7 linked regions of the Homo sapiens genome follow. The protein of the gene in region 4 purifies or fractionates together with the protein of the main gene of each other region. This does not show direct contact. Each region holds a gene or a part of one and is shown on either strand. Other genes may lie near its edges. The genes, in order: CPT1A, TOR1AIP2, BTAF1, SLC39A3, TTC27, PLEKHG3 and ECPAS.

Region 1 (4,190 bases), on a different chromosome or scaffold from region 4:
TTCTGTTGCTGGTGGAAGCCTGAACTTGAATTCCGGAAGAATTGGTGCTTTAAGAATTAAAATGGCTGTTCGAGATTGTTTGTTTAAAGTGTGTTGGAGAGAATCTCTCGAGAATCTCTCCAACACACTTTAAAGAGGCCTCACTTGTCTTCTGCCAGTCTTGAGCTTTTCTTGTGAAGACTTTTGTTTTGTTTTGTTTTTACAAATAAGCGATATAAGCATACGATGCAAAGTTAAAGAGGCACAGATGGGCCCGGCCCCGTGGCTCACGCCTGTAATCTCAATGCTTTGGGAGGCCAAGGTGGGAGGATTGCTTTGAGGCCAGGAATTCGAGACCAACCTGGGCAACAGAGCCAGACCCCTGTCTCTACAAACAATTAGTAGGGCCTGGTGGAGTGCATCTGTGGTCCCAGCTACTCAGGAGGCTGAGGTGGGAGGATGGCTTCAGCCCAGGAGGTGGAGACTGCAGTGAGCTATGATTGCACCACTGCGCTCCAGCCTCGGTGACAGCCAGACCCTGTCTCTGTTTTTTTTTTTTTTTTTTTAAAAAGGTGCAGATACAGAGTAGAGTCCTTCTCACTTGGTTCCCCTCTCCAGATGCCACCACTATTACCAGTTTCTTTGACGACATGTACAGGATATGTTTTTTAAACAAATTGATTGCTTAACACAAGTAAGGACTTTTTTCTGCTTGCTAGCTTCAAATATTTGTTACCTTGTGTAAATTTCAACTTTTACCCCATCCAAATGTCAGGTGAAGGTTGGATCTCCAGCAGGCCCTGGGCTGAGGCCAGCTACCCTATTTGGGTATCTTGACGGCCTCAGAAGTGTCTGCCTTTGCCTTTTTTTTGGTGAGGATTGTTCTTCGGTCCAGGAACGTCTTTGGAAGTTAACAGTGAAAGAAATCATGCTGCTGAGTGAGGCGTGCCCTCTCCAGGGTGTGCAGGAGGGTCACCGTCACCTTGGAGGGTTGGGCAGTAGGGTGGGTACCGCTCTGCTTCCTGAGGGATATAGGTTAGGCATTGGACACCAAGTCCTTTATGTTAAGAAAGGAAGGCTTCATACTCCTGATGCGGGTGGTTTGTGGTACCCAGCCCAGGAGCCGGAGAGCCAGCCTGCATTCTTCCTGTTCCCTAAGCCCCCACATGCAGCCGGGGCTAAGTGCTGCTACTTCTTCCTAACTCACCCTTACATTCACCTTCCTCATTATTTCAGTGGCCCAGAGCAGACATTCAGATATGTGTTGAAGGAATGACAGAACATTTGAGACATCCTTTCTTTTTTTTTCTTTAGTGACAAGGTCTTGCTCTGTTGTCCAGGCTGGAGTGCCGTGGCGCAATCATAGTGCACTCTTGGCCTCAAGCGATCCTCCCACCTCAGCCTCCCAAAGCACTGGGATTACAGGCATAAGCCCCCTCGCCCTGCCCGAAGCACCCTTTTTCCACTCTGGATTGCCATAACCGCCTGACGAGGGGCACTGTTATTCCTGTTTGTGTTATGGGAAGTTCCTGTGAGGGAGGCAGGGAGCAGAGGAGCATTTGGGTCCCCCCTCAATGCACCTTCCTTCATGCTGCTACTGTGGCTGAGGACATCTGGACCCGAGACCACGTCCCTATTCTCTCCCCACAGCAAGCTGCTAGCTCTCTGCAGTGATGTCTGCTTCGCCCACCAGCCCTGGCTCACTCAGGGGGTCCTGTGGTCATCAGGTCACATTGAGTCACCACAGACAGCTTTCCTAACGCTGTGTTCTGATGCCCTGGAGAAACTGTCAGCTAAGCGCAGTGGCTCACGCCTGTAATCCCAGCACTTCTGGAGGCCACGATGGGCGGAACATGAGGTCAGGAGATCGAGACCAGCCTGGCCAACACAGTGAAACCTCGTCTTTACTAAAATACAAAAAGGTAGCTGGGCATGGTGATGCACGCCTGTAATCCCAGCTACTCGGGAGGCTGAGGCAGGGGAATCGCTTGAACCCAGGAGTTGGAGGTTGCAGTGAGCTGAGATCACACCACTGCACTCCAGCCTGGTTGACAGAGCAAGACTCCGTCTCAAAAAAGAAAAGAAAAGAGAAGAGAAGAGACAAAACTGTCATATGCTATCACTGAAATTTGACTTTTTATAAAATGATTCTTCATTTATAAAAGCATTTATCCCTGATTTGCCAACTGTCATCTCCTCTGGTGCCCTGAAAAAGATTTAATACATGGAGGTTTGCTTTCCTTTTTCTTTATTTCCTTCATTCCTTCCTTCCTTCCTTCCTTCCTTCCCTTTCTTTTCTTGGAGATTTTGTTTCATTTTTCTTTCTTTCTCTCTTTTCTTTTCTTATTTTCTTTTCTTTTCTTTCTTTTGAGGAAATCTCACTCTGTTGCCCAGGCTGGAGTGTAGCGGTATGATCTCGGCTCACTGCAGCCTCTGCCTTCTGGGTTCAAGTGATTCTCCTGCCTCAGCCTCCCAAGCAGCTGGGACTACAGGGGCATGCCACCATGCCTGCCTAATTTTTGTATTTTTAGTAGAGATGAGTTTCACCATGTTGGCCAGGCTGGTCTTGAATTCCTGACCTCAGGTGATCTGCCTGACTCACCCTCCCAAAGTGCGGGGATTACAGGCATGAGCCACTGCGCCAGGAGTTTTTTTTTCCGAGGCAGGATCTTGCCTTGGTGCCCAAGCTGGAGTGCAGTGCCGTGGTGCCATCATAGCTCAACGTAATCTCCCATTTGGGCTCAAGGGATCCTCCTTCTTCAGCCTCTTACATAGCTAGGACCACAGGCATATGCCACCACACCTAGCTAATTTTTTATATTTTTTTGTAGAGACAGGCCTCACTATGTTGCCCAGGCTGGTCTTGAACTCCTGGCCTTAAGTGACCCTTTCACCTTGGCCTTGCAAAGCGTTGGGATTCCAGGCATGAGCCACCACGCCGGGCTTCCTGGTTTCTTTATACTTCTTCAAATACACACAGTGGCTCAATGTGATGTCCAGTACAGTTTGCACAAAATACAACCACAGATTGCTAAAAGGTATACATCGAAGTCAGAAGGTATCAAATGCTGGCATTGAGATTTGGCATGGGGTGGGGGTGCAACAGGTAGGAAGAGAAATCCACATTCCTAGAGGGTTTGCATTGGCACCACAGGGCTACAGTTGGAAAGGGACAAAGAACGTGTTCCTGCAGTAAAGACCTAACAGGTGTCAGAGCTGGCTGCCACGTCCTCCTGCAGTTTGCCGGAGGAGGTAAGGGCATCCTGCATACTTTATGTGAGGCAAATACTTGCTCAAGGTCACAGGTCTGAGTAATTGGTAGAGCTGGGATTTGAACCCAGATCTGTGTGTTTTCTTTCCCTTTCCCAGGCTGCTTCCCAGACCACTGGGCAGCCAGAGGGCCTGGGTTTTGGAGGCCCCCACTCCCTACCCCATGCAGACTGGGTGTGGCACTGAATCCGCCTCTAGGGTTTCTGGGTTTCCATTTCCTCATCTGTAAGGTGGTGGGTCTGAACCTGTCATTCCATGTCACACGAGTTTTGTGAGGATCCAATCAGAGGTCAGATGTGAAGAGAGTTTTGAGTGTGTAAAGTAAATACAGGCTCTAGCAAACAATGTCCTGGCTGCAGGCGGCATTTAGGGACACCAATGTATTTTGCAGTCCCCACATTAGAAGTTCAGTTCAAGTTCAGTTTGAATTAGAAGTTCAAGTTGTTATATTCTGTGCAAAGGTGAAGAATATGCATGGGAGATACAGGGGACACCGCTCCTGTTGTCTTAGGGACATTTGTGGGAACAATATACTGGTACGAAGAGGAGGTTTAGGATGTCCTTTGGGCAGGTGCAGGTCTCCTCCTTGCAGTCTGAGCTCCTGCCCGAGTGCCGATGCTGGCTAGAGGCAGGGCAGGCACAGTGGGAAAGAAGTAGCAGCTGTTAAACTTCTGGTGGGCTTCTGAATAGCTAGGTCAGATAACTGGGTCTGTCAATACGTTGGCTATCTTCTTTATAAAATTGTGAATCTTTGTGGCTTTTCCAAATTTTTTTTCTAAGATCATATTTGTCTGTATTTATCTAACCATTACTTATTGACGTGGTGCACTATAAGGTCTAAATTTGAATTGGCTTAATTTTTTTTTTTTTGAGATGGAGTCTCGCCCTATCGCCCGGGCTGGAGTGCAGTGGCGCAATCATGGCTCACTGCAACCTCCGCC
Region 2 (4,190 bases), on a different chromosome or scaffold from region 4:
CTTACGGGTGCTGGCTGATATTTTGCTGTGCTTAACAAAATGGAATTTCTCACAATAGGAAAGGCTTTTCCTAAACAAGAAACAAAAACTGCCTTTCTAATTAGAGAATATTAATTTTTCAAGTGCACTTTAAAGTTATGACTCCTAAAAAAATGGTCGGCTATAGGTAGTAGGTGCATTGAGAAGATGAAAAAAAATCTTGATCACTCATGTCTAAATTACATCATTAGTTATAATAACAAATACATAGACTCAGCTTTTACCTTTTATTTTTAAAAATTTTTTACCGAGTACTTAACTCTTCCACGTAGCTTTTATCTTTTAACAGATATATCTTCAAATAATTAAATCTGAGAAGAGATTAGAGAAAAGGTACTTCTGGTGGATTGAAAGTTTAAACAATTTATGCAAAAGAAACTTATTGCTCCTAGTAAAACCTGCTGGTATCTCTGCCTCATTTCAGTTTACCACAGGCTTTGTTTCTGGCTCGTGTTCTCTGTAATTTTCTATTCCTTTTTCATTCTTTTGACAGGCCCTGTGATTCTTGTCGTCCTGGTTGTGGCTGTTGTGGCAAGTTCTGTGAATAGCTACTATTCCTCTCCAGCCCAGCAAGTGCCCAAAAATCCAGCTTTGGAGGCCTTTTTGGCCCAGTTTAGCCAATTGGAAGATAAATTTCCAGGCCAGAGTTCCTTCCTGTGGCAGAGAGGACGGAAGTTTCTCCAGAAGCACCTCAATGCTTCCAACCCCACTGAGCCAGCCACCATCATATTTACAGCAGCTCGGGAGGGAAGAGAGACCCTGAAGTGCCTGAGCCACCATGTTGCAGATGCCTACACCTCTTCCCAGAAAGTCTCTCCCATTCAGATTGATGGGGCTGGAAGGACCTGGCAGGACAGTGACACGGTCAAGCTGTTGGTTGACCTGGAGCTGAGCTATGGGTTTGAGAATGGCCAGAAGGCTGCTGTGGTACACCACTTCGAATCCTTCCCTGCCGGCTCCACTTTGATCTTCTATAAGTATTGTGATCATGAGAATGCTGCCTTTAAAGATGTGGCCCTGGTCCTGACTGTTCTGCTAGAGGAGGAAACATTAGAAGCAAGTGTAGGCCCAAGGGAAACGGAAGAAAAAGTGAGAGACTTACTCTGGGCCAAGTTTACCAACTCTGACACTCCCACCTCCTTCAACCACATGGACTCAGACAAATTGAGTGGGCTGTGGAGCCGAATTTCACACCTGGTACTGCCAGTCCAGCCAGTGAGTAGCATAGAAGAACAGGGGTGCCTTTTCTAAAGCTAAGCACAGAGTTGGTTACAGAAGGTATATGTTTATGAAAAAGTTTGTTTAAAGACCTTCCATTTATATGGAAGGAGGTTGATAAAATAGCTTGAGGAAATAGCCTGAAAAACAAAGATGAGCTTATTTTAGAAACAAGTTTTTATTTTTTATTCCTTGTAAAATCTTTCTAATCTAAGCCTTGACAAAGCTAAAAATTAACCTGACTTTTTTTCTTTGGACCAAATCAGGTTTGAAATATCGATGATATATATGAGAATTTTTTTTAAATTCTAAAATATAGCAACATTGCACAGGAAGATACTCTTACTTCTTAGAGTAACTACAGAGTGATTTTTTTTTTTTCTTGAGTGAGACTCTGAAGAACCTTTTCGATAATGTTTGGACTTGGACTAAAGCAATTAGAATTATGAAGCAATGATAACCTTTAGAAAATTTTTCTATCACATGTTGAATATTTTCAAACCTTACTTTAATAATCTAAAGTTACGGGATTATATCTTATATTAATTTTGCAGTTTTGAGTAGTATGATAAAAGAAATAAGAATTCAAACCATTAAGTACCTACCTAAATACTACATGTAAGGCACTGTGCTTTTATTTCATTCAGCTGAGGTATAAGCAGCTGTACTCAAATGTTCTTAAAAATGAGAACCAGTGGGGAAATTGTTTATAATCATTGGAAATGAAGAAATTCCAATTGGCTATATCTTTACTTCAGCTTTTCTTGAACAATTTACAGCATTGATTTTCAAACTGTGTCTACTGGCACCCTTCCCCTTTGTATCAGAGCAGTTCTGCTTTTAACTGTTTTATATGTTGGGGTTCTCTATGAGATTTCATTGGAACAAAGAGTTTCACTGATATTCGAGTTTGAAAACCATTGATTAAGTGAAAAAACATCTTAGAAGATAGGAAATATGTTTAAAAAATGAATGTATTAAATCTTATGAGTAGGAAGATGAAATACAGGTTTATTGTATAGATACATTATTTATGAAGGATAAAGATCTATACATGAACAGCAGAATGTATAAGCTAGCATTTACTAGCATGTCTCTGATGCTTTTGTTCATTTCTGTTAATCGTCATTTCTGTCCCCTCTGCATGGAATTTTATACTTGTCTAGGGTAAGAGTTTGTAGACTCTTTCAGCAGAACAGATTTTAATAACCAATTTATTTGTTTTATTTTAAAAATTTATTTTTGAATAACCAATTTAATAGTAAATTTTATATGAACATTTGGCATAACTTTACCAGTTTATTTCTATGCAGTGATGGAACATTATGTAATGCAGCTCATTTCTTGACCAACTAGTTATAGAAGTACCATTAGGTTAAAAATTAGAGAAATCTAAGAGATGTTATACTTAGTGAGAGGAAGCAGAAATGGTGGGTAGATTCTCAGAGGTTTTGATGTTCAGTACTGACGGACCATGTTCTGTGATTGTAAGAAAGATTGAAAACAGTTTGTATGGAGATAGAGTTGATTAGCATTTGAGCTCTGAAAGCAGAACTCTAGTAAAATGATCTCGACCTAACAAAGGGTCTGTTCCATTATATAGACTATTACCATAATCCTGGATTATTTCAACTGGGTTTTGGCCTCTCCATTATATGAGATCATATGTATATAGCTAAGAAGTCTGATTAAAGTATGGAAAGATTTTAGGAAACACTAAGAAGATACAGGGATCTTTACTGATACCTAAAAAGATTACAATTGAGTAATTGCTCAATTGAGTGTAGGGGCATACCTGAAGGAAGAATTTGCATTTGGGACTTCGAAGGAAGCTTCCAAGAGATTTGGGAAGAGACCTGAACAAAAAGTTAAAGCATGGTGAATGTGATATCACTGTCAATCCAGTATAAAAGCAGAGGAAGTTGAAGGAAAATCTGTATCCCATATGCACATTTTTTCTGTCTTTTTAGATCTTAGATGCTAGCGTTACATCCACAAAACCAGTGTTGCCTTGTATAACTATTATATTGGCCTGCTGACCTGTGCTACCTCAGATCTGTCAAGGAACCAGTATGTCGCATATTCTTGTTTCTTCATTCAGTTGAATATGGTTTTTCATCATTTCTCTTCAAAATAATTTAGAAAAATAAATTTCTAAAGTCATAATTTTTAATTTAGCCTTTTTAAAAACATTTTCCCTTCCATGTATAGTGCAATCAATTGAGGGTGTTGTCAGTTTTCTGTCTGCTATTTCAAAAGTCTTTTTTTTTTTTTTTTTTTTTTGAGATGGAGTCTCACTCTGACTCCCAGGCTGCAGTGCTGTGGCTTGATCATAGCTCACTGTAGCTTTAAACTCCTGGGCTCAAGCAATCCTCCCACCTTAGCCTCCTGAGTAGCCGGGACTACAAGTGCAGACTACCACACCACTCTACCACACTATTTTGTATAGAGACAGGGTCTTACTGTGTTGCCTAGGCTGGTCTTGAACTCCTGGCCTCAAGTGATCCTCCCACCTCAGCGTCCCAAAGTGTTTGGATTACAGATGTGACCCAATGCACCCAACCAAACTTCTTTTTTTTTTTTTTTTTTTTTTGAGAGAAGGTCTTGCTCTGTCACCCAGGCTGGAATGCAGTGCAGTGGCACAATCTCATCTCACTGTAACCTACACCTCCTGGGTTCAAGTGATTCTTGTGCCTCAGCCTCCCAAGTAGCTGGGATTACAGGCATGCACCACAATGCCCAGCTAATTATTGTATTTTTAATAGAGACGAGGTTTTGCTATGTTGTCCAGGTTGGTCTCGAACTCCTGGCCTCAATTGATCCGCCTGCCTTGGTCTTTCAAAGTGCTAGGATTATAGGCACGAGCCACTGCACCTGGCCTCAAAAATCATTTTTAAAAGAAGCAGTATATTAGCTCTGGGTCTTCTCATGAC
Region 3 (4,190 bases), on a different chromosome or scaffold from region 4:
AAAAAAAAAATAAAATGAGAGGTTAACTTCACAAATTGTATTTTCCTTTAAAATCACACTTGTTTCTAATACAATTATTCAACAGAATTGAGTACTTCAAGTGATGGGGAAATTCATGATCTCCAAATACATTTATTTGTCAGTTTTTTATTTGGAAAGAACTTCAAAATTATGGAAGAATTATAAGAACATAACAAAGAACTTATTTGCTTTATCATTCTCTCTCCCCATTTATATATGTGTATGTATATATGGATGTCAGAAATATAGTTAGATATCAGTTTTTTCTCTGAACAATTTGAAAGAAAGTTGTAGACATCATGTCCTTTTATCCTTTGAGAGGAATCAGCATGTATTCCTAAGAACAAGAATATTCTCTTACATAACCATATAAAGATCAGATTAAGGAAATCTAACACTGATATTAAAATGTTCTAATATACAGTCTGTTTTCAAATTCTGCCAATTGTCTAAATAGTGCCTTTTATGGCAATAGGCCATTTCCCTAAAATATCCCTCTGAGCCCAGTTCTGGTCACTGAAAGTCACCCATAAGAATATTCCTTCAAACAGAATAAAAGCTATTTGAAGACGGCTATGCATGTTTCTTTGAGCCTTCTTTTTTCTATGTTAAACATGTCTCATTCTTTCAACTTTATCTTGACTTTCAATATGACATGATTGAAGAACCTGCCTCCATTCTGGCCACCAGGGACTTAATTTGTTACCATTTAAAATGTAGCTCCCCAAACTAGACATATTTCAAATGTGGTTTAACATACACATAGTATGGCAGAACGATTTTCTCTTACTTGAAAGTACACTTCTGTTATTACAGCTAGTTTTAATCATCATATACCCCACCATAATTTATACTAAGTATGCAGTGGATTTTCTGAACCTATGTAGGACTTTAAATCCAACTATATTGGTTTTACAATATTAGACTCACTAATATTTCCAAGTGGTGCATCCTTTTGATTATAGATTGTTATCTGATGTATTAGTTCCATCATCTGCAATAACAATGGCTACTATTTATTGAGAATCTACACTAGATATCCTTTCTGACTGCTTACATATATAATCTTACATCACAACCATGTAGTAAAATAGGTATAGAAGCTCAGAGAGATAATCTGCCTAAGGTAACCAGTTAACAGGAGGCAGGGCCAAGAACTCTCACCCATGAGTCTTACTGACTCCAGTGATAAGCTGTGCTTTAGCAGAAAAGGACTAAGGAAAGAAACCTTGTGGCAAGACACTGAAGACATCAATGAAAAAAAAAAATCAAAACTTCACACATCCCCTAGTATGCTGCAGAATTTATCTAGGCACCAAAAATTCCCTCCAGTGGTGATCTCATGGATACTAAAGTAAACGCATTTTGCTGCTCCTTTAATACTTTCAACTTAGCAGTCACAGGAAGCCTGTGACTCAAAGATACAACAAATTGTGTAAGTTCTTTACCTTATCAAGAGTAAACAGATCAAGAAGCTGATCAGTCCCCATGCTCTGCAAACTAGAATTCTCTTGGCTAATAACAGTATTCGCTATGTTCATCTTGAATTTCTGCAACCCCATTATTTTTTCTTCCAATGTTCCTCTGGTTATCAATCGGTATACGTTAACCACACGTTTCTGGATAAGAAAAACAGTTAAGCAACCGTAACACATATTATGCTTTGAGGTTCCAACGAGTCAGAGGGCTTGTAGACTTGTACTATTTTATACTACCTAATTAGGGTTGGATTTTTATTTTGTCTGGCCACATGAGCTCAAAATGTGTGCAGCAATCACAGAATATTAGGGATGAACAGTGATCCAGGTTTTCCTAAGTGCTAGCACCTCATTTAATGCATGAGGAAGTGATACCACAGAAGAGTTAAGTGATCTGTCCAAGGTCATAACACATGTATGTTAACACCAGAGCAAGAACTAAACCAAGGTTTCCTATCTTTCTGGGGGAGTATATTTTCATGCACAGGTTAACATCTGTGAGGTAAAATTGACTTTTACCTGCCCAATGCGATGGGCCCGGTCCATGGCTTGTAGATCTCGCATAGGATTCCAGTCATGCTCCACAAATACTACTGTGTCAGCGCCTGTCAAATTAAGTCCCAGGCCACCAACGTGAGTGGTAAGTAACAGAACGTCTATAGATGGATCATTATTAAACCTAAAAGTAGATAACAAAAATAAAATTAGTCCATTCTTAAGTCCTATAACAGAAACTGTTAATAAAAATTAAAGAGCACAAATGAAAATGCTGCTTTAAAAATCCACAATAGGGATACTTACATGATCATCTGAGAAAAATATCCTCTCAATATGTATAACGTTTTTAGTAAAAGAGGGCATTCCAAAGCTATTCAGGAATTTCATAAATACAAAATAAGGCAAACTGCATTGAATTTAGTAACATCAGGTAAGGACTAACTTGCAAAAATATAATTAAATGCTAATTATAATTAAGATAAACCCAACTATGAACCTTTAAAGTATGGGGACAGAGAAGTGTGAGAACAGGCTAGACTTTCATTCAGGGACGACAGAAGGTGAGAGTGTTAGGGTTGCTACTACTGTACTAGTCCTAGAAGACACTGACAAAGGATATCTAGTAACTTCTAGGAAAAAGAAAAAACTAACATTAAAAATAGCAGCTACCAAGCTACGATTTATTATCCTTACTACAAGTCAAGCAATAGTCTTTGTACTTTATATGCATTATTTTATTTAATTGTTACAATAGCTCTATAAGGGTATTATTACCAATATCCCTATTTTAGAGAGACTGAGGCTGTGTGAATGATAAACAGGCTCAAGAGAACACTGCTTAAATAGCAGAGCCAGGAGTCAAACCTGAGCCTGTCGGCTTCCAAAGTCCCTCCCCGGGTCTCTAACTTTATTGTGCCTAATGATCTCTTAGGGATGCTTGTTTTTTTTTTTTTTTTTTTTTTGAGACAGAGTCTTGCTCTGTTGCTCAGGCTGAAGTGCAGTGGCCCAATCCAATCTCTGCTCACTGCAACTCTGCCTCTCGGGTTCAAGTCATTTTCCTGCCTCAGCCTCCAGAGTAGCTGGGATTACAGGCATGTGCCACCACATCCAGCTAATTTTTATATTTTTAGTAGAGACAGGGTTTCACCATGTTGGCCAGGCTGGTCTTGAACTCCTGACCTCAAGTAATCCACCCACCTTGGCCTCCCAAAGTGCTGGGATTACAGGCATGAGTCACCGCGCTCAGCTGGGATGCTTGTTAAAAATGGCTACTCTTGAAGTCAGCAGCTTTGGGACTAAGCAGAACCTAGGAATCTGCATTTTTTTTTTAAAAAAAAAAGCAACCACTGAGATTTTAAAAGTAGAGGCTGCAGACCACATGTGAACACTGCACTCACCAGTTCTGCTTCCTAGCTGGGCCAGATTCCAACTTGTTCTCAGTGCACAAACAGGGATTAGGATGGAGATTTTAGCTAAGCCACTTGTTTGGTTCCTCTCACCCTAATTCTCCCAAAAAGGTAAGGGGGAAAGTAGTTATCCTTACTGTTGGTTGATGCCTTAAATTTCTTTCATGCTCTTCAGAGTGCTTTTCTATTACAGTCACACCCTTTTCATATGCTAAGCAAATAATCTATTCGATTATATTTATGTAGTTCTATAGTTAAAAAGGGGTTTATTTGGGGTGAATTACACAATTAAAAAAATGCATTTGCAGATATTTAGCCAATGAAAATATTTCATGGGGCAAACTTCTATGTAAGTAATAATATATTTATTTATGAATAAGAGTCTTAGAAGCCACTTACCGGGAAACAATGGAATGCCTCTGACCAGGAGGTATGCTGCCATCTAATCTCAAATAAGTGACAGAGGGCAAGTGAGGTTTGAGGAGATCATGCTCTACTATATCAAGCATGCTTTTCAGCTGACAGAATATCAGTATCCTGTGCTGGGCCACAACAGACTCTGTGCCACTCTCGGAAGTGCTGCCATTTCCCAAACCGCAGTCCAACAGCAACTTAGGAAGAAAAAAAAAAAAAACTACATAAGCGTTCAATAAAAGCAGAAAACTAATCTCACTGTGACATTCCTCTCTGTGGCAAGAAAAGGTTAAATGTACCTGAAATCTGGAAAGCAGATTAGCACTTTGGGCTGCAATCTGTCACCCTGCAGCACACTGAACTAGTTTTTGAG
Region 4 (3,187 bases):
TGTGGACACCTGGCAATGTCTGGAAACATTTTTTATTTTCACAACTCGGGTAGGGGGAAGGTGCTGACATTCGGGGCTGGATTGTTCTCTGGGACGGGGCCGTCCTGGGCACTGCAGGGTGCTGCTGAGCAGTGTCTCTGGCCTCCACCCACTCCAGGCCAGGAGCACCCCCCATCGTGACAACCACAATGTCCCCAGGCATCGCCCAGTGTTCCCTGGGGGCAGTTCACGCTGGGTGAGCCTCTGCTGCAGCAGAAGGCTGTGTTTCCACGGAGAAGCCACTTAACTCCCTCACTGACCACCGGCTGGAGGCCTCATGCATGCCTCGCTTGAGGACAAGCTCATGAGGAACTCTAGCTACTCCCAAGAGACAGACGTTGATCAGGAGAGATGAGGCAGATGCACGGGAGCTGTGAACCAGGCACCATTTTCCAGGGGTGACTGAGAGCCTGGCCCTGCAGTGGGTGAGGCTGGGGGCTCGGGAGTAGGGACCTCATCCGCCTGACCAGCCCGAGGACAGGAGAACGGCGGGAAAGGTTTGGGTGCCATGAGAAGGCCACTGTGATGAGGGGGAGGGAAGAGCAAGCTCCCCGCAGTCGCCCAGGCCTGCAGTCAGAGGGTGACGGGGGTGACACCATGACCATGGGGGAAAAGGGGGGCTGGCAGTGGCCTCTGCGATGCAGGAGATGTCAGAGATGACCAAGATCTCCATCCTCGCAGTGCAGATGTCAGTCTTCACACACCGCGTAACGAACGAATGCAGACTCAGCCACGCGGAACAGCAGGAATGCGGTGTCTCGGCTCTGAACGGTGGAAATCCAGGTGCGGGCTAGCTGGGCCCTACGCTCCAGGTCTCGCAGGGTGTCATCAGGGCTGAGATCTCACTGACACCCAGGGTCCTCTTCCAAGCTCACTGGAGGTCGGAAGAGTCCACCTCCTGGTGGCTGTGGACTGAGGCCCCGTGTCCTGGCTGGCTGTTGGCGGGGATGGCTCTTGGCACCGAGAGGCTGCCCTCGGGTCCTCGCTTCATGCCCTTCTCCTGGCACACCCTGGCTTTTTGCTTCTCCAAGGCCAGCAGGAGGGTGAGTGGCTCACCTGATTAGGCCAGGCCCACCCCCTCCCTTTTGATGAACTCAGCGCTAACCGATCTGGGGCGGTCATCACAGCTGCAACATCCCCTCTGCTGGGATTCTGACATAATGGCAGGAGTGACACGCACGGCAGTCCCAGCCCTACCCACACTCGAGGGGAGGGAAGAGCATGGGGCGTGCGGAGCAGGGGCTGGAAGCTCAGGGAGCCACCCTGGAACTCTACTCTGCCACACTAACAGGCTCAGATGATTTAATCCCAGACAACAGCCCTTCTCCTCCTTTCTGGACACTAGGCACGAGGAAAAGCAGGGCCAGGGGTTGGGGGATAAGCTTAGGGCTTCCATGCTTTCGTTGGGAGGAAGAACAGGGGGTCCTCATATCTCCACCAAGTATGTAACCAACACAAATTCAATGTCACATCTGGCACTGGCCCAGAGAGAGGAAGCCACTCACCCAGGGTCACCCAGCAAGCATGGCCAGGGCTGGTCACACTGTGGCCTGACAGGGGACCCACACTCTGGGCTGCTGATATGGGGGAGCTCAAGGAACAGGTCAGCAGAGGATGATGCTGTCAGGAGTTGGGGTGGACAGACTCCAAGATGGCCCCAGAAGCCCCTGCCTCTTGACAGCCATACCCTGTGAGGTCCTGGCCACTTGAGTATGGGAAGGACTTGAACTTGCTTCTAACCAGCAGGACACTGGGGCAGAGGGGAAGGGATACCCTGTCACCTCTGCATGACATGGGACTGTGCCCTCTGTCTTACACAGAGTCATGGCCATCTTCTCCATTTGCTGATGAAGGAACTGATCATGCTGGGGAGGTCCACGTGGCCAGGCTCTGAGGGCTGCCCCAGCCAACAGACACTGACAAACAGACACCTTCGGTCTGACAACCAATGAGGAACTGAACCTGGCTTACAACCACATGAGCTTAGAGGCCGACCCATCCCCGGTTGAACGTTGAGATGAGACCACAGCCCAGGAGACACTGTGACTGCTGCCTTGTGAGCTCCTGAAGCAGTGCCCAGACCCCTGACTCACAGAAACTGTGAGATGATAAACGTCTGTAGTCCTAAGGTGCTCAGTTTGCTATAATTTGTTACGCAACAGTAGCTGACTGATATAGGAACCGAAGAGAGGCCATGCTTTCCAGCTTCAGGACAGAGTGTGCCCTACCTAGGTGGGTAGTCTGGTCTGATTATCAGGTGACAACCGACAAGTCCACCTGTTGGGAATCCCAGGTCTGGTCCAAACCCCTTGTTTGGCCGGTAGAGCACAGAGACAGAAAGTAACCAGTTCACAATCACACAGCAAATTCACTTCCTACTTTCCGTCACCCTTACAGCATCAAGGCCTTCACTGAACTTGGCATCAGTGTTGAAAATGCATCAGAGTCCCTTGGCCATAAGGTGCCAAGGGCTGCTGCTAGTGCCCAGGGAGCCCTTACCTTTTCCCTCACAGCGGGCAGCAGAGCGTTGAAGCACGTGGCCAGAAACACCCCTCCTCCAAAGGTGTTGCAGAGAGAGAGGATCTTTTTCGAGCGATGGGCCTTCTCAAAATCTGTCTCGATGATCTTCACGGGGAGCAGGGAGCCGAGCAGCATGAAGAAGAACACGCCCACCATGCACAGGATTTTGGCCACTAGCAATTTCACCATGGTGGCGGCTTGGGCTGCTCTGGTCACTGCAGGGCCAAACCATCTGTGGGCGCACACCCAAGTCCCACGATGTGCTACCGAGCCCAACCACACAGTTGGAGGCTCATGTCTCAGTCCAGCAACTGTGAACATCAGGGGCACTGCATTAGCTTTCTTTCTTTTTTCTTTTTTTTTTTTTAGACAGAGTCTCGCTCTGTTGCCAGGCTGGAGTGCAATGGTGCAATCTCCGCTCACTGCAACCTCCGCTTCCTGGATTCAAGCAATTCTCCTGCCTAGTAGCTGGGATTACAGACACGCGCCACCACTCCCAGCTAATTTTTTTTGTATTTGTAGTAGAGACGAGGTTTCATCATGTTGGCCAGGCTGGTCTCGAACTCCTGACCTCGTGATCCGCCTGCCTCGGCCTCCCAAAGTGCTAGGATTATAGGCGTGAGCCACT
Region 5 (4,190 bases), on a different chromosome or scaffold from region 4:
TTTTTTTGAGAAAGTCTCACTTAGTCACCTAGGCTGGAGTGCAGTAGCATGATCTCGGCTCACTGCAACCTCCACCTCCTGGGTTCAGGCGATTCTCCTGCCTCAGCCTCCCAAGTAGCTGGAATTACAGGCACACACCACCACGCCCGGATAATCTTTTCTATTTTTAGCAGAGATGGGGTTTCGGCATGTTGGCCAGGTTGGTCTCGAACTCCTGACCTCAAGTGATCCTCCCACCTCGGCCTCCCAAAGTGCTGGGACTACAGGCGTGAGCCACCACACCGGGCCATGTTGTAACATTTCCAATCAGGATATGTTTTGTAATCACTATAAATGGTATAGTAGTGTTCCTTTCCTTTTCCTGAAAAATGGTTATTAAACAGATGGTGTATATTACAATCTAATAATGTGTTTAACACAAGGTAATATGATATATAACCAACTTAACAATTCTCTTCCACCCATTAGAATAAAGCTATGTTTCTATCTAATCCATACCTACAGCATACAACTTGTACTCTCCATCTTCAAGTAGTAATTAACAAAGACCATAAGATTATCTGAATGTATTTTATTTCACATACAAAAGATTAAATTCTGGCCGGTGCAGTGGCTCATGCCTATAATCCCAACAGTTTTGGGAGGCTGAGGAAAGTGGATGGCTTGAGCCCAGAAGTTCGAGACCAGCCTGGGCAACACGGTGAAACCCCATCTCTACCAAAAATACAAAAATTAGCCAGTCTCATAACCTGGTCTCTAAATAGATAAACAGGTAAAATTTATTTTTTATTTATTGATTTATTTTTTTTTTTGAGATGGAGTCTCACTCTGTCGCCCAGCCTGGAGTGCAGTGGCACGATCTCAGCTCACTGCAAGCTCCGCCTCCCGGGTTCACGCCATTCTCCTGCCACAGACTCCGGAGTAGCTGGGACTACAGGCGCCTGCCACCACTCCCAGCTAATTCTTTGTATTTTTAGTAGAGACGGGGTTTCACTGTGTTAGCCAGGATGGTCTCCATCTCCTGACCTCATGATCCGTCCACCTCGGCCTCCCAAAGTGCTGGGATTACAGGCGTGAGCCACCACGCCCAGCCAAAATTTTTAAAATAAAATAATTCTGAAAAAATTTCTGATAGCCACATGTAATATATTAAAAATGTTAACCACATTAACCCTGTAACATGTATTACATGGTGAATCCCAGCACTTTGGGAGGTTGAGGCAAGAAGATTGCTTGAGCCCAGGAGTTTGAAACAAACCTGGGCAATATAGTGAGAACTCATCTCCATTTAAAAATGGAAGGAAGGAAGGAAGGAAGGAAGGAAGGAAGGGAGGGAGGGAGGGAGGGAGGGAGGAAGGGAAGAAAGAAGAAAAGGAGAAAAGAAAAGAAAGAACAAGCAAAAAAACGATTAAAATTCTGTATTAAATGGTACATCATTTTCATACATTTCTCATAATACTCATCATATCCTATTTATCACCAGGAGATAATTTTCTTTTCTTTTTTTTTTTTTTCAAAGGGAGTTTTGCTCTTGTTGCCCAGGCTGGAGTTCAATGATGCAATTGCACTCATTGCTCATTGTAGCCTCCACCTCCTGGGTTCAAGCAATTCTCCTGCCTCAACCTCCCAAGTAGCTGGGATTACAGGCACACACCACCACAACTGGCTAATTTTGTTTTTTTGTTTATTTTCTTTTTTTTGAGACGGAGTCTTGCTCTGTCACCCAGGCTGGAGTGCAGTGGCATGATCTCGGCTCACTGCAAGCTCCGTCTCCCAGATTCACGCCATTCTCCTGCCTCAGCCTCCTGAGTAGCTGGGACTACAGGCACCCGCCACCACGCCCGGTTAATTTTTTTTTTTTGTATTTTTAATAGAGACGGGGTTTCACCATGTTAGCCAGGATGGTCTCAATCTCCTGACCTCGTGCACCCACCTTGGCCTCCCAAAGTGCTGGGATTACAGGCGTGAGCCACTGCACCTGGCCTAATTTTGTATTTTTAATAGAGACAGGGTTTCACCATTTTGGTCAGACTGGGCTCGAACTCCTGACCTCAAGTGATCCACCCACTTCAGCCTCCCAAAGTGCTGGGATTACAGGCATGAGCCACCATGCCAGGTCAATCACTGGGAGATACTTTTCTATAGAACAACTCCACATTAAAAAACAACAAACACAGCCAGGTGTGGTGGCTCACGCCTGTAATCCCAGCACTTTGGGAGGCCGAGACGGGTGGATCACCTGAGGTTGCGAGTTCGAGACCAGCCTGACCAACATGGAGAAACCCTGTCTCTACCAAAAATACAAAATTAGCCGGGCGTGGTGGTGCATGCCTGTAATCCCAGCTACTCGGGAGGCTGAGGCAGGAGAATCGCTTAAACCCAGGAGGCGGAGGATGCATTGAGCCGAGATTACGCCACTACACTCCAGCCTGGGCAATAGAGTGAGACTCCATCTCAAAAAAAAAAAAAAAAAAAAGTAGTTGGGGGTTTCTGGGATCAGAAAACACATGCATAAATACTAAACGGCTTCATGGAAGCAGCTGGAGTGGACTATAATTAGGTAAACTGACCAAGAGTCATAATTCAAACTAAAGAAGAGAATTCACTAGACATGTCAAATAAACATACTAAGGCAACCACCCCCCCAATAATGACAGAGAAACAAAAGGCCGATCACAAAACTAGTGAAAAGGAATTCTGATAATGTTTATATATTTAGAAAAAGCCTAAGAGATTCCAAGAGAAGACAAACATAAGGAAACAAATATGATAGCAGATAGAGAAACTGGTCTACACCCAGTCTGCCTTTCGTATTTCTTCAAGAGGGGTAATACATAACTAACTGCATCATTAATTCATAGTTATTGAATCCTAGAAGAAAAACAGTATTTATCTCTATATACAGGTTAGGAAAAAAAAAACACCAGTTTTTTCTATCACAGGTTAGGAAAAAAAAACACCAGTTAAACACCAGTTCTCCCTGACTCAGCAACCTTTAAAAGGCAAAAGAAAGAATAAAATGAAGTCTGTCCCCAACCCATTCAGTGTTTCTATGGTACTCAGCTATTGAAATTCTTAGACTCAGGTGTTAATTGAATTTAATAACTTAATGTCCTACTTGCCTTGGTTAAATGTTCCTGAGGAGTGGGTGCTGGAGTGAATTCACAATTTGAAAGGACATCCCCTTCCCTTCTTACATCTAGAATCAGTTGTGCCACATAATTTTCCTGGAACCGTGTTCTTTTTCCCAAAGCACCTGAAAAAACAATAAAATTATATCTACTGACTTACCCATGAGATCTACTGTACAGTCATGAAGAGTAATATTTTCAGAGTGCTTTAGAGTTTACAAGGTATTTTCTCCATTTCACATAAGAAAGTCCTGAGGCCCAGCCTCAGGTTTTAAATGACTTATAAAATTAGAAAGCCAACAAGCTCTGGTACCAGGACTCAAACCCAGGATTTCTGCCACTACAGTCCACATACTAATTTTTGCATCAAACTACCACCCTTTAAAAAAAAAAAAAAAAAGTAACACATTGAGTGTTGTAGGTAGAAGAACTATTATTATCTCTTTTTCACAGATGACAGAAACAAAAGTTCTAAAGAATACAGTCATTTGTTCATGATCACAGGGCTTCTCAGCATCAGAACCAGAGCTTAAAGCCAGGATCTTTTGGTTCTATATCAACAGTTTATTACACTATCTGACTTCATGTAAGACCAAAATTTTTTCATTATGTCTCTGAAATAACTTACTGCAGAATAGCTGTTTTCAAACCACTTTAAGAAAAGCAAAAGTTCCAACATCCACTCTCTGGACAAGGTCAGATTACAAAGATCCTTGATTACAAAGACCAGTCTAGAAAGTCTGGATTTTATCCTGTTATGAGTCTGGCTCTAAGTCATACATTAACCTTTTAAATATGTTATGCTGAAGATAGCCACTGAAATTGTTTGATACAGCTTACTTTTTTATTTTATTTTATTTTATTTTTTATGAGATGGAGTCCTGCTCTGTTGCCAGGCTATAGTGCAGTGGTGCGATCTCAGCTCACTGCAACCTCCGACTCCCTGGTTCAAGCAAATCTCCTGCCTCAGCCTCCAGAGTAGCTGGGATTACAGGCATGCACCACCACACCCAGCTAATTTTTGTATTTTTAGTGAGGCGGGTTTTGCCATGTTGGCCA
Region 6 (4,190 bases), on a different chromosome or scaffold from region 4:
GGGCCTCTGAGTCCCAGCCCCAGGTCTGATCTCAGCCCCGCGCCTCAGAAGCTGCTCAGTGTTAGGCACGCCATCAACCACTCAGTGCCCTTTTCCTTCTAGAGCCATTGTGGGGAAGAGTAGGAAGAAATAACACATCAGTTACAGAGGAGGTGTCCAACAGATATCAGTTCTCTACCCTTTGCCCAGGTGACCACAGGTGTGATTTCAATGTCTGGCATGCTGGCAGGGACAGGGCCTTATAACCCATACAAGGTGGCCTAACGAAAGGAGCCTAATACCTGGTTCATTTCCACTAGCTGCGTGCCCTTGACATGGGACTGCATCTGCCCAAAGGGGAGCCTTTCTCTACTTCATAGAAAGGGGTGGTCTGCTCACCAAACCATATACTCTAGGCCAAACAGGCTTCATGCAGGGCTGAGAGTCCTGGGAGGTGGGGAATCTCTGTTCCCATGGGCCCAGTGGGAGAGCCTGTGCCTGAAAGCCCTATTTGCAGACTTGAAAATCTGGACTCCAAGTTCTTCCTACTATCCCCATCCCACCTGCTGGTCGCTCACCTCTGGCAGGGAAGAAATGGACTCGAAGCTCATGCGCTTCTCAGTACTGGTTGGAGACCGGCCACTGGGCCTTCTGCTGCTCCTGGAGCTTTCAGACTCCCTGCGCCCCTTTCCCTGCAGAGGTAGAGGTCAGTCATCAACTCCAAGACAACTGGAAGCTGATCCCTTCTGCATCCCAACACGGGCAGTGCCTCCCACGCCCCAAGGGGCTGGGCTGAGCTGAGAGCCAGTCTTGGACCTGAGCCATTCCAGAGCCAACCTGAACTGCCAGGCCTGGGGCTGCGGAAAGCCTTGTCAGGCATGCAGCTTCAAAAAACCTCAGCCCACCTTTCTGTCCCTCCAAAGTGGACTTGACCTTTCCAGCCCCACTGTGTGCTAGCTTCTCCCTGCCCCCACCACCCCACCCCACTTGTCATGCTTGTTGGGCGTTATATTGATTAGTGCCCAGTACTGGAACAGAGCATGCCAGGGGCTCACCAGGGTGTGACAGCGAGCGATGGTGTTAAGTGCTGAGGGGAGGAGTAAAACCAGGGCAGGGTGGGGTGAGGAGGGCAGCAGAGGGGGCCCTCGGGTGGGCATGCACATCCCAGGGAGCATGCAAGGAGGAGGGGAGATCGAAGAGACACCTCACCATAGCGCCCCGGGAGAAAAGTAAAGCGTTGGCCCGATAGTGCCAGCAGTGGAGGGCGGCCAGCAGGGAGCTGGCAAAGTCGGCTACCTGCTCCGCCACCGCCAGGCTCTCCTCCTGCTCCTCCTCCTCCTCCTCTGAGCCTGGGGGCTCCGGCCCAGCCCCCTTCTCGTTGCCTTCATGCCCTGTCAGGTCCTCCAGAGAGACCTGAAAGGCCTGCTCTTCCTCCTCCTCCTCCTCCTCCTCCTCCACCACCTCCTCCTCTTCCTCTTCCTCCTCCTGGGTAGCCCCTTCAGCCTCTGGCTGCAGGCCCCGAGTACGGGAGGGCTGCCCAAAGTCCAGGAGGGTTCCAGCACTGCCTGCATGCTGTTCAGAGCACAAGACCCCCTCGTGACCAGCCTCTTGGGCAACCTCCCGTCCTCCTGCAGGCAGCTGCGGGGGGGGAGCCTTCACACAGAAAGCCACACCTAGATGCCCAACTCAGGTTGCCACTGGGGTCCAGGGAGGGGTGGGCATTCTCATGGTGGAAAGGCTGGGACCTGGTCAAAACTTCAGAACCCAAACAGGCCTGCCTACTTGTCTACCCTAGGGAGAGGGAAATCTGAGTAGGTCCACACTGGGCAGGCCCCCAGCAGGGTGCTGTTCTAGGCAGAGGGTGCAGAAGGGCCCCCAGGGCAAGGCCCATGTCTTATTCATCTCTGTGGCCCTAAGCCACACAGCCTGGTACACAGTGGGTGCTTAGTAGGCATTTGTTGAATGAATGAAGACAATGAGGGCTGAAGGGGCCGGGGGCTGACCTGGGCAGTCCCACCCTCCTCTGTCAGCCAGTCCCCTCCTCCCACTGGCCTTTACCTTCATTCCTGCTGCTCGGGCTGCAGACATCACCACCGGGTCCCCCAGCACACGGGCGAGGGGCAGGGGAGGGGAGGGGAAGAGATCAGTAAGCAGGAAAAAGACCTCTGGACAGCTCCCTGGGGAAGTCCTCACTGGGGGCTCCTGCTCCCAGAACCCTCACCTAGTCTCCTGGGCTTTCAAAAGAATGACTGACAGAGCAGGGGCCCAGGGGCCACAGAGCAGCGCAGGTCTGTGCCTGTTGCTCGGCTCTCATTGTTTCCGGAGGAAAGGGCATGAGGCCTGTGCATGGGGGAGAGCTCCAGCCCCTCTCCTCAGCCAGCCAGGGGCGAGGCCCTCTTCTGGGGGGAATGGAGGCAGAGTTCCCTCTACACTATTCTGACAATCCTCCACCCTCAGGTCACACCCCAGGTTGTCGGCTGCTTCCCCTCCTCCCTCCTCCTCCCCCGCTCACTGGGAATGGCTGGCCACCTCACACACTCACCTTTCTCGTTGAGTTGCCTGAGCAGGTGTTTGGTTGGCTCTGAGGAGGAAAGCATGAGCAGAGTCAGCGCGGGCCAGGAAACTGCTGTGCCTGGCTGGGTCCCAAGCTCACAGCGCCACCAGCCCATCACCAGCTCAAAGTCCACTCTGGCTTGGCCCCCTGCAGTCATAGGCCCCAGGGAAGCTGCCTTCCACAGTGTCGGCGAGCCCCCTTGCACCTACGGACAGGGAGGCGGGCCCATCCATCTCCAGGACCCCCGCTGTGACTACCAGCCCTGCCGGAGCAGTACCACCCATGATGCAATGCATTAGGGCACCTGGCCCAGGGCCCTCGCGCAGGAGCCATAGGGAGGGGACTCAGTTCCATGCTACCCCCTTCAGACCAACTAGCAACATCTCCGGAGGTCCCTGGCTCCACCTCAAGCCCCTTGCCTCCCTGGCAATGAGCATATCAGCGCATCAGCTACACCCACTGCCAAGCCCCTCACAGCATCCCAGCTGGAAAGCAGAGGTCGCACCCGACTTTCTACGGCCCTTAAGGCTGGGCATCACGAAGCCTCGCTGACCGCTGGGGAGAGTTGCCCGGCTGTACGGAGAGTGACCAGGCTCTGGGGACAGGATACAAAACACATCCATTAGGCCAATGGTGTCATCACCGTGTACCCCAGCCTTTTTGAGGATACACCTGAGACTGGAGGGCAGGAATAAGAGGACCTTGTCTCAAGGTCCAGTTCTACAGAGCCTCGGCCTTCGCCTATCCATATCCTTGCCCAGCTGGCGGTAAGTGGGAGGCCCAGGGATCGCCATGATTTGCTACACACCTGGAGTCAGAAGGAAAGTCTACCAAGGTATCTTGCTGTTCCTCAGCAGGCAGGCCTGTTGAAGAACCTCTTTTCTGCTGACACACACAACATACATACACTATCTGTATCAATGTAAGTAAATGCCTAATTGTTTTTAAAGTGAAAAGTAGAAAATGTTCTATTCTTTCATTTTAAAACTTATCAAGAATATTTAATAAGTGAGACATAATTTAAATTAAACAATAGAACTTAATTATCAATAGAATACACTTGTCAGCTCATCTCAGCTCTCTGAGTGGGAAGCAGAAGCAGAAAAAACCTCAAGGAAGTCAGAGTAGATGGCTGAGCCCAGGCAGTAAAGTGCCTGCATGTGGCCCAAGTCCCTCCCTAGTGACTTTCCTGATCTTTTTGTGGTCTACAGTTCCCACAAGTTCAACAGATTGATTTCTTTTTTTGTTTTGTTTTGTTTTGTTTTTTTGCAACAAGGTCTCATCTGTCAGCCAGGCTGGGTGGGTGCAGGGGCACGATATCCATTCACTGCAACCTCTGCCTTCCAGGCTCAAGTGATCCTCCCACCTCAGCCTCCAGAGTAGCTAGGACTATAGGTGCACACCACCATGCCTAGCTAACTTTTTAATTTTGTAGAGATGAGGCCTCACTGTGTTGTCCAGGCTGGTCTTGAACTCCTGGACTCAAGTGATCCTCCCACCTCAGCCTCCCAAGGTGCTAGGATTACAGGAGTGAGCCACCACACCTGGCCTGAACGATCGCTTTCTAACAGACAGGAGGGGAAGAAGGGCTACTACAGACAAGCATACTTAGACCAATGAAAACAAATACTTCAGTGTTACAGAAGAACCGTGAAGA
Region 7 (4,190 bases), on a different chromosome or scaffold from region 4:
GTGCGCAAGGCACATGCGCAAGTACAGAACGATCTACAAACAGAACGGAGAGGAAGACTGCATAAGCTTCTCGAAAAGTCAGTGTGGGAAGGTACTCTTCAAAGTAACAATTTCTAGTTTTGATTCACCCACACTTCTTTATAAAGCTATTCCAATCCTCATGGAAGGCAGAAAATATGCCATAATGGAGCAAAATTTGTATAATAAGGTTTGCAAATCCAAAGAATTTTTTAAGATTGTTAAAATACAAACTGAACTTTTAAAGTCAGAAATTGGAGCTGGAGGCTGTTATCCTTAGCAAACTAACGCAGGAACAGAAAATCAAATACCACATGTTCTCACTTATAAGTGGGAGTTAGATGATAAGAACTTCTGAACGCAAAGAAGCAAACAACAGACACTGGGGTATACTTGAGGAGAGAGGGTGGGAGGAGGGAGAGGAGCAGAAAAGATAACTATGGGGTATTGGGCTTAATATCTGGGTAATGAAATAGTATATACAACAAACCCCCATGACACATATTTACCTATATAACAAACCTTCACATGTACCCTCGAACCTAAAATAAAAGTTAAAAATTATAATAAAAATCATTATTTTTTAAAAGCCGTGTGTGTGTGTGTGTGTGTGTGTGAGAGAGAGAGAAAGACAGAGAGAGAGGAAAGAAATCTGAAGTAAATGGCCTATTACTCCTGCAGAATTCCAGTTGTGTTTACTCCATTGACACAAGAATCTGAGAAAATGGGTTCAATTCATCTACAGAAAAATAGATATAACACCATAAAAACCTCTGATATAGACCAGACACAGTGGCTCACGCCTGTAATCCCAACACTTTGGGAGGCTGAGGCAGGAGGACTGCTTTAGCTCAGGAGTTCAAGACCAGCCTGGGAAACATGGTGAAACCCATCTCTACCAAAAAGATAACAGAATTAGCCAGGGGTGGTGGTGCACGCCTGTAGTCATGGCTACTCAGGAGACTGGGACGGAGGTTCACTTGAGCCCAGGAGGCAAGGTTGCAATGAACCGAGATCACGCCATTCACTGTACTCCAGCACGGGCAACAGAGTGAGACTCCTTCTCAAAAAAAAAAAAAACCAAACAAACAAAAAAAACAACCCTTACATAAACAGGCTGCCAAGGAGTCCATCCTCTGGAAGCTTTTTCATTGATCGTTAAAATAGGATAGGCAGCAAATTCACTGTGAATATTCTTAATCCGAACAAGATCACCTCTTGTAATTTACCTAGAGCAAGTCAATAATCTAAAAAACAGAATTTCCCTTAATAAGTGTGATCAATTTAATCCTCTCCAACCTTCAAAACTAAATAACCCTAACAACCTCAACAACAGGTTGGCTTTAAAACCCAAATCTAACTTGCTGCAAAATCCCAATAGTAATCACTACAGAACATCCAGTTTTTTCACAAAAAGAATCTCACTGAGATAAATATATTTACATACTTCACTATGAATTAAAATAATACCAATTTCCCAATACTTTTTTTTTAAATAAACAACCCGATGAAGAACAATGACACCACAATATGGGTTTACCTAAAACACAACAAAATGACAGACCCCTCTTTGGGTGTGGTGTGATCTTTTTAGAACACTTACAAAAAGTAAATAGAAATATATGAAAGTTCTACCTCTCCAAAGGCTGCTGGGTTAAATGGAAGGACAGTGGTCCCGGTCATGTACTTGACTGGAGTTTTCATTCGATGAGAAGCCTAAGTTTAAAAAGTCCAAAACAGACACAATTACTGAAAAATGAAGCATACCTGCCCTTCCTCAACTCAAAAACAACTGTGTTTCTAGCTACATGTCCTAAGTTTGCTTCTTTTTCTGATCAAACATTTTCCACTTTCCTATTAACCATGCTGATCGTGCATGTCCCTCACACACTAAAAGACAAGTGTATTGCCCTTTTTCCATGTTTGTTCTGGTTTGTTTAAAAATAATAAACCTATTCCAGACATCTACTAATATGGTCATCTCAGGTCACTGCATGCCAGTTATTTTCATTAATAATCAAAGTAGGAGGAAACTACAAGCAGAGAATCTTCTGACCACAAATAGACTGTGCTGCTATGTGGAAAACAGAATCATGGCCGCTGCATACTGACCTTCAACTCCCTTAAGGTGCCTACCTAGCAAAGAGCTAGGATCACCAGTGGAGGTAAAAGGTAGGAAGGTGTCCTCCGGCAAAGTGGGACAGAGTCAAGGCCTGGAGGGGGTGGATGGTCATTACTGCCAATATCCTGGATCTACTAGCAGAAAACACTGTGCAAAAGCAAAAACTTACAAAAGCAGATGGGATGCTCTCTTATGAACACGGTGGGAAGAACATGAACTGTTCCCTGAAGCATCCTTAAACTTACACTACCCTAAAGCGTGCCCTTAAAAATAAAAAGGAGAACCAGCGTGGGCAATATAGCAAAACTCTGTCTCTACAAAAAATAAAAAAATTAGCCAGGCACGGTGGTGCACGCCTGTAGTCCCAGCTATCGGGAGGCTGAGGAGGGTGGATCACTTGAGTCTGGGACGTGGAGGTTTTAGTGAACTGAGACCACACCACTGCACTCTAGCCTGGGTGACCAGAGCAAGACCCTGTCTCAAAAAAAAATAAAAAAATTTTAAAAAAAGGAGATGTATTTTTAAGCATGTCATATTAAGGGAAAAAATATTTAACACAGCCAAAATGTTGCCAAGCATGAAAGGAATTATAAGTAATTCAAGTTTAGGCAAAACAGATCAATTACAGGTGAGGATTACAATTTTTTTTCCTCACTTTGTATCTTCTTCTTATTGTAAGTATTAATGCTAGAAACTTTATGAGTCAGCTGGGCATGGTGGTTCATGCCTGTAAACCTAGCACTTTGGGAGGCCAAGGCAGGTGGATCACCTGAGGTCAGGAGTTCAAGACCAGCCTGGCCAACATGGTGAAACACTGTTTCTACTAAAAATACAAAAAATTAACCGGGCTTGGTGGCAGGCGCCTATAATCCCAGCTATTCAGGAGCTGGGGCAGGAGAATCACTTGAACCCAGGTAGTGGAGTTTGCAGTGAGCCAAGACCGTGCCATTGCACTCCAGCCTGGGCAACAAGAGCGAAGCTCCATCTCAAAAAAAAAAAAGAAAAGAAAAGAAAAAGAAATTTTATGAGTCAACATCTAGTGATTACATTTTTCACTTTAAAGATGTTTTTATTTTCATCATCCATTATGATTTAGACTAATTACCTTAAGTTGCATGCCATACCTTTTCTTGGATGTAATAAACCATTTCTGGGAAGGAAGGCATCTGCTCAGAAGTACTTTCTTTTCTGTTTCTACCTGGAAGACACCTTAATACGCGTTGTGCTTCTCCATGAACTTCTTCACGTCTTTCAGAAAAAGACAAATAAGAATAAAAAATAAATGTCACCAATGGGAAATGATCATTTGAAGAATAAGAACAGCAATTTTATTTGGCAGCTAGAGTTCTCAGAAAATGTCTTAAATACATTCTTGGCTATCTAAGCAGAGTCAACATAACACATTATAAGAAATCACTTCTTTTCAGAAATTGCATGAGGTCCGGGGACTCATCTGGCTTACATCTTTGAATTTGACTCACATTAAAAAACAAGATAGGGTACTTTAAGTAAATTATTATGTAAATATCTATGTGTATGCTTTACCTCGTAGAGTTAAACCATAAACAACTATAATACATATTTTAGAAGTCAGTGACTATCCAGTGGTCTACACACTCCACCCAAAGTCTTACATCTCTATGTATTCAGCTACAATTCTGTACAACTAATAACTCATAAGTGACATTAAAGTGTAAAAATATAAACCCAACCAATTTCAGACCACCTAGAGACTGATCTCAGCAATAGTCTTATCCAGATACCACATAAAGGCCTTTTAATTCTTCAATTGCCTCTGATTGTGTCTCATTTTCCAAACAACACATAAAGGGCCGAAAAGAAAGAATTAATAAATAATTCCTTAAGTTGTCAGAGGATTTTCATTTGACCTGAATGGTTCTAACCTAAGAAGGAAAACTGTTGAATTAGTTATGCTTTGTTTTTGGTTTCTTAAACAAAAACAATTTTCAGCACTTACAGAGTAAGATACAGCAGTTAAGAGCTCTATTTGGAAGTCCAACTCCCTAGACTTAAATCCTTGCTCTAACAT

Evidence for each region.
Region 1: the proteins of SLC39A3 (region 4) and CPT1A purify together in Homo sapiens (affinity purification with mass spectrometry; one large-scale study listed by BioGRID and IntAct). This does not show direct contact.
Region 2: the proteins of SLC39A3 (region 4) and TOR1AIP2 purify together in Homo sapiens (affinity purification with mass spectrometry; one large-scale study listed by BioGRID and IntAct). This does not show direct contact.
Region 3: the proteins of SLC39A3 (region 4) and BTAF1 purify together in Homo sapiens (affinity purification with mass spectrometry; one large-scale study listed by BioGRID and IntAct). This does not show direct contact.
Region 5: the proteins of SLC39A3 (region 4) and TTC27 purify together in Homo sapiens (affinity purification with mass spectrometry; one large-scale study listed by BioGRID and IntAct). This does not show direct contact.
Region 6: the proteins of SLC39A3 (region 4) and PLEKHG3 purify together in Homo sapiens (affinity purification with mass spectrometry; one large-scale study listed by BioGRID and IntAct). This does not show direct contact.
Region 7: the proteins of SLC39A3 (region 4) and ECPAS purify together in Homo sapiens (affinity purification with mass spectrometry; one large-scale study listed by BioGRID and IntAct). This does not show direct contact.

The regions. Positions count from the first base shown.
Region 1 is NC_000011.10:68,834,928-68,839,117, reverse strand, and holds part of CPT1A (carnitine O-palmitoyltransferase 1, liver isoform), read left to right. Parts: intron 1-4,190. UniProt on the Homo sapiens protein: Catalyzes the transfer of the acyl group of long-chain fatty acid-CoA conjugates onto carnitine, an essential step for the mitochondrial uptake of long-chain fatty acids and their subsequent beta-oxidation in the mitochondrion.
Region 2 is NC_000001.11:179,843,171-179,847,360, reverse strand, and holds part of TOR1AIP2 (torsin-1A-interacting protein 2), read left to right. Parts: intron 1-532; coding exon 533-1,290; 3' UTR 1,291-4,190. UniProt on the Homo sapiens protein: Required for endoplasmic reticulum integrity. Regulates the distribution of TOR1A between the endoplasmic reticulum and the nuclear envelope as well as induces TOR1A, TOR1B and TOR3A ATPase activity.
Region 3 is NC_000010.11:92,024,580-92,028,769, reverse strand, and holds part of BTAF1 (TATA-binding protein-associated factor 172), read right to left. Parts: intron 4,015-4,190; coding exon 3,803-4,014; intron 2,179-3,802; coding exon 2,019-2,178; intron 1,641-2,018; coding exon 1,470-1,640; intron 1-1,469. UniProt on the Homo sapiens protein: Regulates transcription in association with TATA binding protein (TBP). Removes TBP from the TATA box in an ATP-dependent manner.
Region 4 is NC_000019.10:2,734,510-2,737,696, forward strand, and holds part of SLC39A3 (zinc transporter ZIP3), read right to left. Parts: intron 2,871-3,187; 5' UTR 2,749-2,870; coding exon 2,539-2,748; coding exon of another isoform or gene 2,431-2,538; exon of another isoform or gene 17-2,430; intron 1-16. UniProt on the Homo sapiens protein: Transporter for the divalent cation Zn(2+). Mediates the influx of Zn(2+) into cells from extracellular space. Controls Zn(2+) accumulation into dentate gyrus granule cells in the hippocampus.
Region 5 is NC_000002.12:32,665,701-32,669,890, reverse strand, and holds part of TTC27 (tetratricopeptide repeat protein 27), read right to left. Parts: intron 3,257-4,190; coding exon 3,123-3,256; intron 1-3,122.
Region 6 is NC_000014.9:64,735,223-64,739,412, reverse strand, and holds part of PLEKHG3 (pleckstrin homology domain-containing family G member 3), read right to left. Parts: intron 2,561-4,190; coding exon 2,522-2,560; intron 2,058-2,521; coding exon 2,038-2,057; intron 672-2,037; coding exon 558-671; intron 1-557. UniProt on the Homo sapiens protein: Plays a role in controlling cell polarity and cell motility by selectively binding newly polymerized actin and activating RAC1 and CDC42 to enhance local actin polymerization.
Region 7 is NC_000009.12:111,414,619-111,418,808, forward strand, and holds part of ECPAS (proteasome adapter and scaffold protein ECM29), read right to left. Parts: intron 3,389-4,190; coding exon 3,265-3,388; intron 1,735-3,264; coding exon 1,654-1,734; intron 34-1,653; coding exon 1-33. UniProt on the Homo sapiens protein: Adapter/scaffolding protein that binds to the 26S proteasome, motor proteins and other compartment specific proteins. May couple the proteasome to different compartments including endosome, endoplasmic reticulum and centrosome.